Regions from separate parts of the Homo sapiens genome. Here regions 1, 2 and 4 are each reported to be linked to region 3. Evidence: microRNA targets listed by miRTarBase, many of them from high-throughput screens and not tested one by one. Region 3 holds a microRNA gene; each other region holds the end of a gene's coding sequence. Distances are from middle to middle.
Evidence for each region. Region 3 holds the annotated microRNA hsa-miR-214-5p (UGCCUGUCUACACUUGCUGUGC, at 2,491-2,512, shown strand). A microRNA usually pairs through its seed, bases 2 to 8, with sites in the 3' UTR of a target mRNA and lowers its output. Matches are read on the target gene's strand: a 7mer-m8 pairs with bases 2 to 8, a 7mer-A1 pairs with bases 2 to 7 and ends in A, and an 8mer does both.

Region 1: the mRNA of NICN1 is a reported target of hsa-miR-214-5p. Seed matches in the 3' UTR shown: 7mer-A1 at 1,453-1,459.
Region 2: the mRNA of INAVA is a reported target of hsa-miR-214-5p. Seed matches in the 3' UTR shown: 7mer-A1 at 3,326-3,332 and 7mer-A1 at 3,459-3,465.
Region 4: miRTarBase lists GGA3 as a target of hsa-miR-214-5p. Seed matches in the 3' UTR shown: 7mer-m8 at 3,958-3,964 and 7mer-m8 at 3,852-3,858.

Annotation. Positions count from the first base shown.
Region 1 is chr3:49,422,042-49,425,041 of GRCh38, forward strand. It overlaps NICN1 (nicolin 1, tubulin polyglutamylase complex subunit), which reads right to left. Exons shown (of 6, transcript NM_032316.3): 5 at 2,908-3,000; 6 at 292-2,833. The coding sequence ends at 2,792. AMT (aminomethyltransferase) reads right to left here and starts at 432. Exons shown (of 9, transcript NM_000481.4): 1 at 320-432; 2 at 63-230. The coding sequence starts at 409. RefSeq lists enhancers at 1-59, 60-813.
Region 2 is chr1:200,911,267-200,917,436 of GRCh38, forward strand. It overlaps INAVA (innate immunity activator), which reads left to right. Exons shown (of 10, transcript NM_001142569.3): 9 at 187-871; 10 at 2,271-4,476. The coding sequence ends at 2,363. Among named protein-coding and RNA genes, the nearest start is that of INAVA, 19 kb to the left of the region's middle.
Region 3 is chr1:172,137,571-172,141,368 of GRCh38, reverse strand. MIR214 (microRNA 214) reads left to right here and starts at 2,462; the gene lies at 2,462-2,571. The region is part of intron 14 of DNM3 (dynamin 3); the gene reads right to left. DNM3OS (DNM3 opposite strand/antisense RNA) reads left to right here. Exons shown (of 4, transcript NR_103486.1): 4 at 773-3,798. It overlaps MIR3120 (microRNA 3120), which reads right to left and starts at 2,561; the gene lies at 2,481-2,561.
Region 4 is chr17:75,233,629-75,238,727 of GRCh38, forward strand. It overlaps GGA3 (golgi associated, gamma adaptin ear containing, ARF binding protein 3), which reads right to left. Exons shown (of 17, transcript NM_138619.4): 16 at 5,024-5,099; 17 at 2,971-4,761. The coding sequence ends at 4,651. It overlaps NUP85 (nucleoporin 85), which reads left to right. Exons shown (of 19, transcript NM_024844.5): 17 at 1,009-1,160; 18 at 1,472-1,573; 19 at 1,950-2,130. The coding sequence ends at 2,051. Among named protein-coding and RNA genes, the nearest start is that of GGA3, 25 kb to the right of the region's middle. RefSeq lists a silencer at 1,023-1,186.

The DNA of each region.
Region 1 (3,000 bases), not on the chromosome of region 3:
GTGGACCACTGTAAACAGGGAGGAAGGCCTGATCAGATGGCCAGTGTGCTCCCCTGGCTCACCTGCAGCATATGAGACACGTCAAAGAGCGAGCAGTGCTGGCGTGTGTGCAGGTGCGAGTCAGTGTGACTGTCCCGGTACTGCACTGGCAGACTCCAACCCGCAAACGCCACCATTTTCCCGCCGTGGGCCAGGTGGAAGTCATAGAGCGGTGTCCTGCGGAGCACCTCCTGTGGGCGGCTGGGCTTAGTGCCACCAGGGCCCTAGCCCCCAGCCGCTTCCCTCCCCCACCCTCCAAGATCAGCACCCTCTATCCCACCTGTGCGCAACTAAGTGGACGACACAAGGCCGGGGGGAATGCCTGCAGGCGAAAGCCCAGACGGGCCACCACACTTACAGCCCTCTGCATCGTCGCCTGCAACGAGTGCAGACGGCGCACAGAGGCCACCACACTGCCAGGCACGCCGGGAGATGTAGTCCAGGCCTCTGCTCGGACAGGTCTCTCTCCGGAGCAAAGGATCTGAAGGGGGCGTGGGCAGCCCCAAGGGCAGGCTGGGATTTAGAGCAGAGAATGCAGGAACCCGCAACCACAGGGAAGAAGCCTCCAGCTCTTTCGGCTGACTCTTCAGGGCAGCTCGGGCAATCCAGAGCTGATTGGGCTGCCCAGAACAAAGCTAGGGGCTAGACCGCCCCCTGCAGAACCGCCCTGTCTCCAGAGGGTCAAAGTTCTGGAAAGGGCTGAAAGGTCTGAATCATACCTTTAGGACCTCAAGAGAGTAAGGTCAAGTGGGGGTGGGGAAGGTGGGCCAGCCTGGCAGGTAGGCAGCACCACAGTAGTCTGTCCTCATGTGGACCCCTAGTTCCACAGCTCTCCCACCAGGCAGACACAGGCAGCCAGCAGTCATGCATTCCACAAGTATTTATTGATCTTACTGCATACCAGGCCCTCAGATGGGGACACAGCCACGAATGAAGCATGGTCCCTGCTACCACAAGGTCCTCTTCACTTACACACACACTGAGGACTACTGCTTCGTCACGCTTTCCGAAGCAGCTGAGTGGGGCTATGTAAGTGACCTTGCAGATGAAGTCGCCACCTGCAAGAACTCACAGGTGAGAACAGAGGGTGGCCACCAAAAGGTCACTGAACTCCCCCGAGAAAACTGTTGAGCCACACACATGTCCAACTTTCCAGGTCCAAGACATACTGCAGTACTGCTTTGTAATAGCCACCAGGTGCAAAGCCAGGAAGAACCAGAGGGAAACAGGTTTTTCTCACATGAGGGAAGAGCAGCCTGCATCACTTAATGGTTGGACTGAGTTAATGCAGGACTTAGGCCTCTTAAAAGGCAACAATGAGAACCCTTACTTGGACCCACTCCCCACCACGGTTGATCTCTCATTATGCTGAGCATATCTCTTGGAAAGGGGCAGGGCGGGCGCGGTGGCTCATGCCTGTAATCCCAGCACTTTGGAAGGCCAAGGCAGGCAGATCACCTGAGGTCAGGTGTTTGAGACCAGCCTGACCAACATGGAGAAACCCCATCTCTACTACAAATACAAAATTAGCCAGGCATGGTGATGCATGACTGTAATCCCAGCTACTCGGGAGACTGAGGCAGGAGAATTGCTTGAACCTGGGAGGCGGAGGTTGCAGTTAGCCAAGATTGCACTATTGCACTCCAGCCTGGGCAACAAGAGCAAAACTCAACCTCAAAAAAAACAACAAAAAAGGAGAGGGGCAACTGGGAGAAAGGATAGAGATGTGCTTTGGGCTATGTCAGATGGCAGAAGGGTCCCAGTTCTTTTTTTTTTGTTTGTTTGTTTAAGATGGAGTTTCGCTCTTCTTGCCCAGGCTGGAGTGCAATGGCATGATCTCAGGTCCGCAACCTCCACTTCCCGGGTTCAAGAGATTCTCCTGCCTCAGCCTCCCAAGTAGCTGGGATTACAGGTGCCTACCACCACGCCCAGCTAATTTTTTGTATTTTTAGTAGAGACGGGGTTTCTCCAGGTTGGTCAGGCTGGTCTTGAACTCCTGACCTCAGGTGATCCGCCTGCCTGGGCCTCCCAAAGTGCTGGGATTACAGGCGTGAGCCACTGCACCCTGCCTAGAAGGGTCCCAGTTCTTATGCTCAGGCCCTGGTTTTGCTAGAGACACGTGCCCAGGCCCTATGGGCACACCCACTTGAACATATATTCAGGAGCCAGCTCAGAAACCAAGAGACTCAGGCTGCCCAAATCTTCAGGTTTCCTTCCTAGGCAGGCAGCAGAAGAGTTCAGACAGGAAATTTCTCTCTGTGGCATAACACAAATGGAAAGAAAACCACTAGGGGACACACAGGAAGAAATAAGGTTTCTGTTTCTTCCTCAAGTGTCCCAAGTGCCATGGCAGCAATGGCCTTCCAGGTCCATACATGGAGCAGGTTTTAGTAGGTCAGCCCAGCCCAACTGCACTGACATGAGGGAGCAGGCAGAAGACAGGAATGTGCATGTTGCCAGAAGGGGCAGAGGGCACTCAGGGATTCTCAGTAAGTACAACTGACTGGAGTGTTTTTGGGTAGAAGGAAGAATTGAGTTGCAGCCAGGCGAAGACAGAGCACCCCCATGCCAGGAGCTCATGCTGAAGTAACACGGTAAGCCCCTGAGAATCCTGAATCTGTGAATGTGGCCCAGACAGAACAGGCATGCAGGCAACACTTGGAATGCACAGGAAATACACTTCAGCCTCTGGTGGCCCAAACCAAGTCTGGGTGGGCACAGAAAGGCCAACATCTTGGCTAGGAGCAACCATTCAAGTGTAGGAGAGCAAGTTCAGGTCATAACAGCCATCCACCTGAAATACAAAAGACCATCAGGTCTGATCTGCTCAGGGCAAAGCAAGCCAAGCAGAAGGAAGCGATTACTTACATCAAAGCGGCCGATCCTTGCGGAGGTGTGACTGGCCCGGATCATCTCTGTCAGTGCCCACATCTGCTGCACCTCGGAGGATACCCTGCTGGG
Region 2 (6,170 bases), 29 Mb from region 3:
CCCACGCAGCCCGGCAGAGGGTTTGTTGGTTTGCTTTGGGAGACTTGACCTAAGACCCTTGCACGAGGGCCATGCTTGGGCCTTGAGGTAGAGCAGGACTCACCTGTTTTAACTCCACCTCCCGCCCCAACCCCAGTGTGGAGTTTCTGCCCCCCACACTCAGAATGCCTCTCTTTCCCTCTTCAGGGTGGATTCCTTCCGGGCGGGTCCTGAGGGCCGAGGTCGCAGCGCCTTTCCCCGCCGCCGCCCCACTCACTACACGGTGACAGTGCCAGATTCCTGCTTTCCCGCGACCAAGCCCCCGCTGCCCCACGCCGCCTGCCACTCCTGCTCAGAAGACAGTGGCTCTGACGTCTCCAGCATCTCCCACCCCACTTCGCCGGGCAGCAGCAGCCCCGACATCTCCTTTCTGCAGCCTCTCTCCCCTCCCAAGACCCATCGTCACCGCGGGGCCTGGGTCCCAGCCGGCAGCAGAGAGCTGGTCGCCCACCACCCCAAGCTACTGCTGCCGCCTGGCTATTTCCCGGCGGGGCGGTACGTGGTGGTGGCTGAGAGCCCCCTGCCGCCTGGCGAGTGGGAGCTGCGCCGCGCAGCCCCGGGCCCTGCTTACGAGGAGGAGGGCACTCCCCTGCGCTACCAGCGTCTGGTGCCCTCCCGCAGCCGCATCGTGCGGACGCCCTCCCTGAAGGACAGCCCGGCAGGCCGGGGGCTCAGCAAGGCCGCCGTGTCCGAGGAGCTCAAGTGGTGGCACGAGCGTGCACGCCTCCGGAGCACCCGCCCCCACTCACTGGACCGCCAAGGAGCTTTCCGGGTCAGGAGCCTGCCCCTTGGGAGAGAGGGCTTCGGACGAGCCCTGGGACCCCGGGCACAGGTACGGCTGCTCTGGAGGGACCCCGGGGCCAGGCAGGAGGGCTGTTTTGTTGGGGAGGGGCTGCAATTCTAGTATGTCCAAGGGTACAGAGGCATCAAAGCAGCAACCTAGTGGCCGGGTAATCCCCGTCTAGGAAGAACAGGCCAAAAAATCATTTCCTCTTGGCTTTGGAAGGCACTCTTGGCTTCCCTGGGGCACCTCCTAATTTTGCCTGCCATGTCTAGCTCAAGAGCATATACACTGGTGGAGATGATCCCCGAAGATAGCTGAGACTTTTTCTCTCCCTAAATGATGATGCACAAAGCAGATAAGCCTCTTCATAATCAAAAGTCCAGTCCAAATCAGCCCCTCAGATTTCCATTTGAAGGTCTAGGACAAAGGGAGAGTAGGAAATGAGTTGCAGAAGCCAGAACCTGTGATTTTCTGGGCATCAGCATCCTCCCTGACACCCCTCCTCACCACCAAGCCGAGAAGAAGGGTGGCATCAGAGTTAAGAGCACCCACCCTCAAGCTAGACCACCAGGTTCAAATCCCAGTTCTGCCACTTACGAGCTGTATGATTGGGCAAGTTACTTAACCCCTTTGGACCTAGTGTTTCCTCCCCTGTGAAATGAGAGTAGTAGAGTACCTATCTCATAGGGCTGCCAAGAGGCTGAAATGATTAGAGCAATGCATGGTAAGCGCTAGATATGTGATATTATTATCATCTGGGGCCACAGAGGCCAGGGAGCAGGCTGGAGGGTAGTATATAGGATAGAGCACCCTGACACTGGGTAGGGTGGCAGCCTTGGTTTCCTTGGCCCCTATTTCTTCATTCTGGAAGTGGGGAGCCACACACAGGAATCCTTTCTTTATTCTTTCTCCCTGGTACGGAGGGCTCTGCAGGTGATGTGCTCCAGAAGTTACCAACAAGCTGCTTCTTTGAGACCCCAGATTCCCAGCAGACCCAGCTGCGTGTCCCTCCCCCACCCACGGTTCTTTGGACTGCAGCTGGCATCCTGGGCCTGGCAGCACCCTGGCCCCGGTCCGAGGCCGCGCCCTCCAGCTGACGTGCTTTTCCCTTTCTGCGCGCTTGGGCCTGTCCTTGGCTGGATAGACCCAGCCCATCCCAACGTGCCAGACAGGGAGGGTGATGAGAAGTGAGCCCAGGAAAGGTGGGGGAGGAGGAGGTCAGGGCGCCTGTCACACCCCAAAAGAACATGGAGGAAAATGTGTAAAGGGGGTCCCTGAAGAACAGAGAGCATCCTGGGAGGAAGGGGCTGAGTGCCAGGGCCTGCTGCTGCTGCTGCTTCTGCTGGTCAGTGTCCCTAAGGGATAAGGATGGTGTAACTGTGCCTGCTGTCCCCGCTTTTCTGCCTGGTTCATTTACCCACCTGTCCTTTCTTCCTGACCCTGGCAGGTGCCCACAGTTTGTGTGCTGCGGAGATCGCCTGATGGGGCCCCTGTGCAAGTCTTTGTACCTGAAAAAGGAGAGATCATCAGCCAGGTGTAACTCTGCGCCCCACGCTGGAAAAAACTGTTTCATAGAGGGGCTGGGCTGAGACCCCCCCACCCCTGAGTGCCTCTTTCAGCTCCCCCATCCCCATCGCAGGCCGATGACCTGGAGCTGAGACCTTTTATTATTTTTTTTTTACACGACTTTTTTCAGAAGCCCTGACCTAAGGATTTATATATGTGGATTGTCCTCAATACCCCTGTGATATGATTATGTTTTATCCCCCAGAGTTTGGCCTACTGGACTTAAGGCCTTGCCTGTCTGACTGACAGCCTCTATCTCCTTATATAAGACAAGTGGCAGGGGACGAGTGAAGCAGAGTGAGCCACCTTGGGAGTTCTCCAACGCTCTGTGCTCTGGTTCTAAGAAATTCCCTGGGGAACTGCCCCTGGCCCTCCTGTCCCACTATTGCTGGAGGCTGGACATGGTACATACTCATGCACATGACTCTCCCCCATTTCCCAGGTCTCTGGGTACCCCAGCCTGGGCTGGGGGAGAATCTCTTCCCCCTTTTCTAATGTGCTCTGTGATGCACACACCAAGTGGTAGGTCAAAGGTCAGTATATCCCGGTGGTGTATTGTCTTGCTAGACCCTGCTATTTTCCTGACCCCCTAAATCCTCTTTAGGGACCCAGTCACTATACCCTGTCTATGCCCTGTGGGCTCCCAGACCCCTGAGCTTTGAGTCAGTGGCATCACAGTTTGTAGCCTCAGGGGGTCTGGCTGGGGGCTGGTCCATGCTTGTGGTTAGTGGACAGCAGCCACCCTTTGACAGCTACCTCTGGGCATCTCAAGGGCTTGCAGCCCCACTGCTCCTTCTAACATTTTGTTTGTTTTTGAGATGGAGTCTCGCTCTGTCGCCCAGGCTGGAATGCTGTAGCAAGATTTCGGCTCACTGCAACCCCCGTCTCCCGGGTTCAAGCGAATCTCCTGCCTCAGCCTTCCGAGTAGCTGGGATTACAGGCAAGCACCACCATGCCTGCTAATTTTTTATTTTTAGTAGAGATGGGGTTTCATCATGTTGGCCAGGCTGGTCTCGAACTCCTGACCTCAAGTGATCCACCTGCCTTGGCCTTTCAAAGTGCTGGGATTACAGGCATGAGCCACCGCACCTGGCCCTTCTAACGTTTTTTCATCATAGTCCCAAAAACCAATACTTTACAAGTGGTTTTGGAAAGGCACCACTTTTGTGGCATGTTCTGGTTGGGAGAGGGAGTCACAGTTCCTACTCCCCCCACCAGCTATGCTTCTGCTCTGAGAAGGTGGTTATTTATACAAACATGGACATACTCACTCCCAAGGGCTGATGAGATGCTGAATTTTCTTTGGGGGCATTCATTAATTGTCCCAGCTGCAGCGACTGGAGCAAGTCTGGAAGCTGCCTGTGCTAAGACCACCCAGCTGTCCCTGGGTTCTCATCCTAGGGCCTTCTTTGCTTCCAGGTCAGGGGACCTGCTTCAATGAGAAAGCAACTGAATTGAGGCTAGGAGAGGTAGGGAGAGCTGAGTTCTGACTTCACCTGTGCAGAACTCTCTGCCCCCATGTTACCTGGACTGGAACAGACTGTGAATATAGCAGAAGGTTCCAAGAACTCTGGTGTCTGACCTAGAAGAGGCACAGTTCTCTCTACTGGAAAGAAAACGATGTAGCCGATTGCACAAGGGTGCCAAGGGAAGACCCAGGATGGCCCATCAAAGGAACCTGGGGGAGGATGCAGGAGGCTGAAGGGATGCACCTGGCATTTCTCTCACTGTGCTCTTACCGCATCAGCAACCCCCAACTTTTGGGCCTACTCTGCCCCCCATGCGTGAATACCCTGCTTGGATGCTGTGCTTTTCCGGTTTGTCTCTAAGCCCCTTTCTCCAGGGCATGTTGGTTTCCCTGGCCTCTCAGTGTCCTAACTGGAGCCCAGAGTGCCTTGTTCTGAGCCAGGAGACGGCTGAGCACTGGCCCTCCACACCTAAGCGTCCTTTACATTAACTTATTGGTCTTGTATAACACCTGGTGCCATTGCCAAGTGGCTGTGTCCTCAGCTACAGAGCTGGAATTGTGTGGGGTTTAGTGCTAAATACTTCAATAAAGTCTGTTTTTTGTGATTGGCTGAGCTGGGGATGAGGGATTTTTTATTTTTATTTATTTTTATTTTTTGGTGTGTGTGTGTGTGTGTGTGTGTGTGTGTGTGCGCGCGCGCGCGCGCCAGGTTTCCCCGAGCAGAGGCTGAGCCCGGCCCCCTGGGCTGCCCGCCAAGGTGGCCAAGTTGCCCGGCCCCTCCAGCTGGTCTGGCCAGGTCCCTGGGGAGCTGGTGTGATGGGTTGGGTGGTAGAGGGAGGCTCTCAGATTCTCTGCTTCCGGGGCAGGGTGGAAGCCAGCACAACCCCTGTCAAGGCTCCTTACAGCCTCTTCAGCTTGAGGAGCTGGCCTGTGGGAGTCACTTCCCCAAGGACAGGGCACTGGCCAGGCAGAGGGTAGAGATGGGTGGCTCAGCGCCTCCAAGCCATTCCTGGAGCTTTGACTGCCCGGAGCCCAGGCTCATGAGAAACAGCCCCTTCCCCATACCTGGAAGACTGGGACCCCTCCTTGGGGTGGTGAGGAGGCGGGGCTCTCCGCAGGCCCCTCCCCCATCGGCAAGAGTGCCCACAGCCCCTCCGCTGCCTGGGGTCCCACTGAGGCCAGGGGCGGGGAGCGCCACCTTGGACACTTCCGTGCTTGCCCTGCAGGGACCGCTCCAGGGCCCCGGAGCACAGCGCCCCCTGGAGAGGCTGTGCCCGGACCTGAGGCGCCGGCGTGTCAGGTAAAGGGGTCCCCCTTCCCGCCAGTTCCCTCCACAGCCAAGGAAGGGGCGGGGAAGGGCCCCGGCCCTCGCTGCCCAAGGGGCGCCTCCAGCCTTGCCTGGGTGCGGCCCTGGGGGCCGCGGGGATCTGTGGGCCTCAGGGGTCTGGGGCACTCCATTCTTGGGGAAGGTAGGGGAGGGGAGACGGCTCCAGGGTCTCTGGAGAAGTTGTGGGGTATCCTGATCTCAGACCTGAGCGCTTCGACCTATTATTTGTGGGGAATGGGGCGCTGGATTCTGTATTTTAGACGATGGTGAGTTAGGCCCGGGGAAAACAGGGTGAGCAAGTTCCCAGGGGATGACCTGTCCAAGGGGCAGCTCCCAACAACAGGACAGAGACCAGCTAAGAGGGGGGATACAAAAGAGACGGACACAGGGGCAGAGCAAGGCCCTTTAAGGCAGTGAGCGATGGGACGCGCCCGTTTGGGGACCCGAAGTGCAGGGCGGTGAGAGAACCAGGTTGCACAGCAGTTTCTTCCTGGTCCACCAGCAGGCTTCCCTGGGCCATGTCTGGGAGGGGCAGACATGTGGGGGCTCTTAGCTCCCCTACCATAGGGCAGAAGTAAGGTTATGAATTAGGGGGTGGGGACAGAAGCCTCTGGGAAGAGGGGACCTCGGGATTTTAGCAGCAAGACTCCCAGAGGCAATTTGGCCTGGAGGCAGAGGGATGGCCACTGTGACCTAGGAGCCCACCTGTGAGTCTGAGATTCTCTATGCTGGAAGATCCCAGAATGGAAGACTACTAGGCAAATCAGGAGGGACCAGGGCCCTTCAGAGGGTCCCGAATCTTCCCATGGGGAAGAAATGGGAAGCTGACCCTGGAACCCGGCACTGGCCCTACTCAACCAATTCCTTTTGTGGTAAATGGGCAGGGTCTGCCTCCTGCAGCTTCCCCCTGGAGTGAGTGCAGAGGCTGTATCCCTAGGAAGGAGTATCTTACACCAGGCCTGCCCACTGTTCTCATCGCAAGCTGC
Region 3 (3,798 bases):
TAAAATAACTAGAAGGTCAGGCTTTAACCTGAGACAGGAAATTCCTGAGTTAAGATAGAAACTTTCTTACTTCAAATCCCTTCTTACTTTCATGTTCTGTAAATTAAGTAGAAATAAATATTTACTCATTTTCAAAGGTCTCTTACAAATAATTTTTATCAGTTTTAATAGTTAGAGATAACGAAGTAAATTAGGAAAAATAATTAAATCTTCATTTTGAATTTTTTGACTTAGCGTGACAGCCAGTTTCCTGGAGTTGCTTTGGTTTAATTTCACTACAGAAGACTTAGAAGACAATTCTTTTCTTACATTTTTTTCCTTAAGAAATAAAAGACAAAAAGAAAACAAGGTGTAATAACCACACTAAAAATTACATGGTATGATAATAATACAAATAGCTCTTTTATGTTTTAGCTAGTATTTTAAGTAATAATAAACTAATATTCAACCTATAATTTGGGAGATTAAAAAAAGGTCAATATGGTTTTCAGTCTTTCATCTTTTTAACAAGTTTAGGGGCAGGTTCAACATAACAATGAAGTGTGCATATGTCACATAGTTACTGTAAGTGTGTTTTAAAAATCTATCAGAAACATAAATTGTCCAAAAGCCTTATGAATAGAACAATTGTTTTCAGCAAGATTTTTTTTTTCCCCTGAAAAACTGTTGTGGTTTTTCTGGCTCAAAAAATTTTTATATCTTGCCTTAATAAAACTGTTTTATATTAAAGCATAACATACAAACTCACAAATATTTCTTTTTATTTTTTCAGGTTGCATGCATCATTCCTTTAATTGAGCAGAGTTAACTGGATCAAATTATTTATGGGAGAGAGAGGAAAAGTTATAAAGAATTATAGTAATTTTTAATTTCCACCAATATACTCTTTGTAAGTGAATCACTCTATAATTACTTTCTGTTGCACTGAATGCAGCAACAATAACACAATAGTATTTTAAGGCACTGGTTTTTGGCATACTCTAACCTTGTAATTATTTAAATAACAGCCAAGTTTACTCATGTTTTTGATTCTGTCAAGAAAAAAAAAAAGTTCCTTTACTCGAAAGTGATGGCCGAAACAGAATCGGAAATTTGTTTTCTTGAAATTACATAAATACACAGAAAATGGCACTTATTAGCTTTTGTTAAAACATTACCTTACCTAATCACTGCATAAAAGTCCAGATTTGTAGAAAATTGTAATTTTCTCAGTATCTAAAACTATTTTGCTTTCCATTAAGTTTCTATTTGCTATTTTCTCAGAATTTTACAATTAAAGATAAATCACAAACTGTTTGTTTTTCTTAAAGTTCTTTGAGAAAATGTCTAATTATACAATCCTTGGACAATACTGTGTTTTTTTGGTGCTGTGTTTTTTAAGAAGTCCTACTTACTGGAATTTTGACTATTTGGATATTTTTGTTTTTAAAAGGGGAGGGGAATTTGCTTAATACTTCTAAAGATGTGAATTGATAATTGATATTAAAATAGAATTACTCTCAACTCACCAGAATTAAATTTTATATCTGCATATTTAACACTATTAGCTCATATAAATTATAAGAAAAATTTTCAAAGGATCTGGTTTTAATTTTTTGGATATGAAATGAATTTGCCTTTTCTGCCTTTTCTTAAGTACTATTTTGTAACTATATTGCACTAACTATATCCAAAACACATTCTGAGCATCACTGTGAGTAACAGCCTTCCAGTTTGTACCCTTTTGATTCACAGCATGGCCCTATAGTTAATTAAGAGGTGGATAACTTAAGCTCACAACTGCCTTTAATTTGATTTCACATCCACAGTTATAAACTTTGCATTTAAAAGGAAAATGAGACATTTAAATAGGTTCCTGTTGTTTCACATATAATTGGTAAAAACATATTCCCTTGTAGGATCCTATTATCAGAGCATCAAATACCAAAGTCAGCAACTTGGGTTGCCAAATAAATTAGGCTCATTAATTATTTTGAAAAGGGCTGCTGTTTCCATGTAAATGATAATTTTCTTTTTCATGGACAAGGTTATGGTACTTATCTACTAAAAGAAACATGCATAAACATAGTTTTTATCTTTAACTTCAGTATTAAAATATGCAGTTTTTTGCAAAGAGGAAAAACATCTGGTTCAATTACGCTGAACTCTGACTACATGTGGGCCAGTAATAATATGAATTGGACTTAAGAATAAACCTTGTGTTTAATCTCTTTTTTTCCTTAAAATTTTAATGTGAGTTTTCTGTTACGCAAATTATCCATGTTAGCACATTTGGAACAAATGTATAAATGTACTTTCTGAATAAAGTCAAAAGTCTAACTTGTTTTTAGTTCCATAATGTTTTAATGTTTAATTATATTGTGTATTTTTCTCCCTTTCCCCTTACTCTCCAAAATCACCAAATCTGGAAAACAGGCTGATTGTATCTGTCTATGAGCAAAGGAAACCTGAAGGAACCAAGGGCCTGGCTGGACAGAGTTGTCATGTGTCTGCCTGTCTACACTTGCTGTGCAGAACATCCGCTCACCTGTACAGCAGGCACAGACAGGCAGTCACATGACAACCCAGCCTGAATGACAACCAGCCATTGAAAGAAAGCAGCCCTCACACCATAGCATCTACACCAAGAGCTACAACCAAAATGAGGGGCTCGGGGGCCTGGGGTTTTAATCTGTTGGTTTAATACTTAACTCATGTATTATTTTATTTTGATTCAAGTATTAAAACCCACCAAAAGTAAAGTGAGTGGTGCCTATGAAATATAATAAAACCCATTTCTGAAAATGTTCCTGTGCATTCTATAGTTCTCTTTTCCTAATTGTTGTCAGCAAATCACTACCCTTGACCTTTATTGTACACAGCTTTGCAGCACCCTATATTGATATAAAAACTCAATATAACAAAACAATATAACTTCAGTCTGATGCTTAACAAAGAATAAATTATTCTAAGAATTCTTGTCCATAAACTAAGTATGGTTTTCTATGTCATGATTTTTTTTTTTTTTTTTTTTTTTTGGAAGGGGATAGGGTGGAAAGACAGAGAAAAGAAAAGGGAGAAAAAGAGTATTCCAAAGGATCAAGTGCTTTGAGTTAACTCTGCCAGTCTGGGTTAACTCTGCCAGTCTGGGTCTGGGCAAAACACAGTGAAAAGACTACTATTTCCAACTAGTGTTCAACTATATTAAAATAATAGTTTCTCCTCTTTTGACATATGGAAAGTTGAAATTTTTGATACTTCCACGCGTCATGGTATACATAAATTTATGACTGCGTCATTCTTTAATTAAGAAGGTGCTTATGCTACAGTTCTAGGAGTAGAATTTACAAGGCCAACACATTCACTTGCAACCTATGCTTCCATCACTATAAACTTTCAAGATCTTGAGATGTTCAGGCAATTCATTTATCTTCAGAAGCATAAGGAAAGTGGTTAATGCACTTGAAATGTATATTTTGACACATCTTTTGAGAAAATATCCAAACTTCAGTTTATGCACTGTTAACTGGAGTGAAATGATAAGGGATGGCTTTTGTCTATGAATACTTTAAATACTTAAGGGTAAAAGGTGGGAAGATGGATAAAATTAGAAATGTGTCAACTTTTATTTAGTTCATTAACATGTTTTAGCTTCAGTATTTGAAATTAATTTTCATCTTTCTTAGATTCTGGTCAAGCTTAAAAAATGTAACACAAGGCTACTCAAAACTTTTTTCACATTTAACAATTAAACACTTTATGTATGTATTCTTAACTAAAGCAAACTATTTTTCATTCAGCTATTTTATTTTTAAAATG
Region 4 (5,099 bases), not on the chromosome of region 3:
CACTCTGTCACCCGGGCTGGAGTGCAGTGGCGTGATCTCGGCTCACTGCAACCCCCGCCTCCCGGGTCCAAGCAATTCTCCTGCCTCAGCCTCCCAAGTAGCTGGGACTACAGGCGCACGCCACCACACCCAGCTAATTTTTTGTATTTTTAGTAGAGATGGGGTTTCACCGTGTTAGCCAGGATGGTCTTGATCTCCTGACCTTGTGATCCGCCTGCCTCGGCCTCCCAAAGTGCTGGGATTACAGGCGTGAGCCACTGCGCCCCGCCTAATTTTTGTATTTTTAGTAGAGATGGGGTTTCACCATGTTGGTCAGGCTGGTCTGGAACTCCTGACCTCAAGTGATCCGCCCGCCTCGGCCTCCCAAAGTGCTGGGATTACAGGTGTGAGCTACTGTGCCTGGCCAGTGCCTCCATGTTTCTTCTTTTTTTTTTTTTTTTTGAGACGGAGTCTCACTCTGTCGCCCACGCTGGAGTGCAGTGGTACAATCTTGGCTCACTGCAACCTCCACCTCCCGGGTTCAAGCCATTCTTCCTCCTCAGCCTCCTGAGTAGCTGGGACTACAGGTGCATGCCACCATACCCGGCTAATTTTTGTATTTTTAGTAGAAATGGGGTTTCACCATGTTGGCCAGGTTGGTCTCAAACTCCTGACCTCAGGTGATCCACCTGACTCGGCCTCCCAAAGTGCTGGGGTTACAGGCATAGGCATGAGCCACCACGCCTGGCCTAGTCAATCTCTTTTAATCCATGACTCTTGTTATGTATTTTGACTCTGATGTTTCCCCAGATTTGGCTCTTCGGAGTTCTTCCAAGTCTGTTTTGAATGCTCTTGGTCTGCATCTCATTGGGACCTATGAGTTTGGAGACAGAAAAAAATCTCCTGCTTTGTGGAGTGGCTGGTCTGAGGTTTTTCTTCTCCTGTTTAGGGCCAGGGTGACTTTTGTAGGTGTCACTTGGGCAATTTGGGGGAATATGCAGGTTACTCAGTGCTCTTGTTTCGCCATAGGAAAGTATCGCGAGTTCCACCGTATGTACGGGGAGAAGCGTTTTGCCGACGCAGCTTCTCTCCTTCTGTCCTTGATGACGTCTCGGATTGCCCCTCGGTCTTTCTGGATGACTCTGCTGACAGACGCCTTGCCCCTTTTGGAACAGAAACAGGTGAAGGTTGCAGCAGCAGTGGTTTTCTTTGCTTGTCAGTCCCTGCTAGAGCTTAGTTGTATAGCTGTTGCCGATGTGCGTGTTTCCTCCTTTGTCGTTCTGCCTGTGCGCGTGTATTCCCCTTAGCGCCCTCTCTGGGATTCCAGACTCACACAGGAAACAAACACTGCTTGATTTGAAATGAGGTATTCGTATACAAAGCACACTATTGCGAAGGGTATGAAAGGAAGAACGTCCGAACATGGGCCCCTGCCCCAACCAATGCAGGCCAGGGCTGGGGGCAGCCAAGCAAGGCAGGCTCTCTTCCCTAGGTGATTTTCTCAGCAGAACAGACTTATGAGTTGATGCGGTGTCTGGAGGACTTGACGTCAAGAAGACCTGTGCATGGAGAATCTGATACCGAGCAGCTCCAGGTCATTTTCACTTTTGGGTTGATGGTTCCACATGGAGGTGGGAAAAGGCTCCCTCTATCTCAGGCTTCCCCTTCCCTCCAGAAACACTGGCTCCTATGGACACATGTGCCTCTGTTCCCCTTAACCTGTGTAATTCACACACCACCTTCTTTTAGGAGAAAATCAGGGATTCTAGTGTTCTCATCTCTACATTTTGTTCTTTGCTGTTCATCATTTCCAGTATGGCCCTTTGGTATTGCTTTCTTTTACATCGATAATTTGCTGGAAGCTACTATGAATGTTAAGTGCCCTCTACCTTTGGATTAGCTAGACCCTTCGGGAGTGTGAAAGGGCTCCTTCCTGCTCTTAGCTCATGCTGGCGCTCTCTGCTTTGCAGGATGATGACATAGAGACCACCAAGGTGGAAATGCTGAGACTTTCTCTGGCACGAAATCTTGCTCGGGCAATTATAAGAGAAGGCTCACTGGAAGGTTCCTGAGAACTGCTTCAATGTGGTATCTTTGTATGGCAATGTATATAGATTTTTTTAAAAGAATAAATGTTGTTTTGCAAATGTAGGTTCTTAGAGTCCACCCAGGGAATTTTTTATCTGTCTAGTCTGAACCTGAGGTGGTAAGAGATTAAAAAATGCTTGTTTTATGTTCTTTTTTTTTTGAGACGGAGTCTTGCACTGTTGCCTGGCCTGGAGTGCAATGGCACGATCTCAGCTCACTGCAACCTCCGCCTCCAGGGTTCACGTGATTCTCCTGCCTCAGCCTCCCAAGTAGCTGGGATTATAAGTGCACACCATACCCAGCTAATTTTTTTGTATTTTTAGTAGAGATGGGGTTTCACTGTGTTGGCCAGACTGATCTCAAACTCCTGACCTTGTGATCTGCCCGCCTTGGCCTCTCACAGTGCTGGGATTACAGGCGTGAACCACCACACCCGGCCTTGTTTTATGTTCTGATACGCAACTGTCTTCCTGTGCCTCCTTAGATAAGAAATCACCCCCCAGGTCGGGTGCAGTGGCTCACGTCCTGTAATCCCAGCACTTTGGGAGGATCCCTCAACCCCAGGAGTTTGAGACCAACCTGGGCAACATAGGGAGACTCCATCTCTGTTTAAAAAAAAAAAAAAAAAAAACCCCAAAGTTGTGGTGACTGCAGTGTCTTGGAAGTCTGAACAAGAACGCTTGGTGGTATACTTGTGCTTCTGAAATCTTGCCTCACCTCTTCTGGAACACTTAACATTTTGGTTATTTAGTTCCCTTAAAATATAAGCGTACAGGAACCCGCACTTTTAACAAAAACCTTGGGCAGTTCTATCATAGGCTGTCCTCATGTATATCTAGAATTCATAGGTGGTACCTTTTCCTCCATCAGGGTGAATGGCGTCTATACTAGGAAGATTCCAAGTACAGTGAAAATGGTTTTATTTAACATGCAGCAAAACAAGGGCAGCAGAGCTGGGATATCCAGTACAGCCATTTGCCACGAAGCACTGACCTCAACAGTAACGAGTAACACTCAAATAACTGTAATGTCTAGAGCATAACACAAAGTTCCATTTCCACATAGTAATTCCACAGACATTCCCAGGGCTGCAGCAGCCAGTCTCTGGAAAGCTCTTGGATTTATTCCTTAAGTAGTGAAAAATGATTCACTTTTGACTTGTCCTCTTCTAATGAAGCAGTGAAACCTGCTTGCTAAAGACAGCGAGGGGCAGGGAAGGGATATGACCTCTTCCCATAGTAAGGAATAAGGAAGCCTGGCAAGGGGCAGGGAGGAACCAGGGAACATGGTCTGTGCCACCTTCCTTTCCCCAGAGATGTCCGATTGCTGAGCTTGTTCACCTGGGCTCCGCAAGCTTCCCCCGTGTCTATGGCAGCTGGTGATTTTTTTTTTGTGACGGAGGCTTGGAGTACATGTCCCAGGATCACATCCAGCAGCTAGAGTGGCTGGGACAAGCTGGCGGGGGCCAAGCACTGTTGAAGCAATAGGGTCTGGTGACTCAGCTCAAGTGTGGCCCGATCTCATCACCTCCAGACCCAACATCTCGCTGACAGTGCCCCTCAGTAGCTGGGGAACAGTTGAGGTTTCTGGGCAGCACATTAGGACATATGTCTAGTGTAACATTTGTGATCCTGAGGCCTCCTGTGTCCAGCCACAGGTGCCACACCACATGCCATCTGGTGAGAGGAGAGGGAGGCCAAAGCAGTAGGATGTAGAGTGGCGGTAGATTCCAAGGGGAGGATAGCAGTTTATTTCATGCCAAGCAAGAGGTAGTCAGTAGGATGGCCTGTCCCCACGGCTGGAGGCACGCTTTTCCCAGAAAGCTGAGTACCTGCTTCTGGAGAAGGGGAAATACTGGCTCTCTTCATTTTCCTTCCTATCCCTAGTTGGGCCTGTCATGAGGCCAAATTCCATGTCCTGCCAAGATGTCCATAGGACACAGCCTGCCACTGCCAGGGACAAGCACACAACTCATCACTCCGTGGCCATTCCAGGACGATGCTGTCCACCAGAGGCAGGGCTGGGGACTTTGCAGTATGCCAGTTCCTTATTCTGGGCCAGGCACCTTCCTGGGCCACCTCCCTGGGGATGGCAGCAGGAGCTGGTTGGCGGGGGAAGCATGGAATTGCAACAGGGCTGCAGCCCCTTGGGCCGTGCATCTGTCAGGTGTGAGGATGTGGCTCTTGTGGGGAATGACCCATGACAGTCTCTCTTTAGAGACTCCCACCCCCCACCCCCCACCCCAGTGGCTTCAGTGAATGCCAGTAGAAGGAAGCAAACACCTACGCCAAGCCTGGGGGTCCATGTTCCCGGGACAGCAGTGAAGTCAGGGGCCACTCCGCACCCCTGACAGCATATGGCCACTTCAAGTCACACAGGTAGATAAAAACAGGTCCTTTTAGGGGCCAAAGGAGAGGTTATCACAGCAGCAGTTTGGTTCTCAGCAGAAATGCCCAGGGCCCCTGTTCCACATCAAAGCTACAAGCACTGTTGTCAGGGCATGGAGAGTGACGGGACCAGAGCCCTCCTCGTCTCAGGGCAGCCTGCCTGGCTTCAAGGTGGAGATCACAGCGTCCTCTGGGGTCATAGGTTCCCCCACTGTTCCACAGGAGGGAACTGGTCCACCTCGCCCACCTCTGTGCTCAGCTGCTCCCCCAGGGCGAAGGTCAGCTTATACCGAAGCCGCACCTTCTCCTGTGACAGAGGGCAGCAAGTGAGATCCAGCCCAGGCGGCCCCTTGGCAGGACGCCCTCTATTCTGCTACCCTCTCTGTGCTAGAGGAATGGTCCCTTTTCCCCGCAACCCCCAACCATGCTCAGACACTTAACCTAAGGCAGCAAAGGGATGTGTCAATCCTACAGTCAAAACACTTCCAGCTGGGAGGTGGTGGGCCTGACGTCCTAATCTGGGGCAGCTGGGGCCTCAGGCTGGGACCCCTGGGTTCTTTGCTGCTCACCTTCAGTGGATTGGCCAGCAACATGACCTGGGTGATGGCTGCAGGTGGCTGGATGGGGCTAAATGGAGAGAGTTCT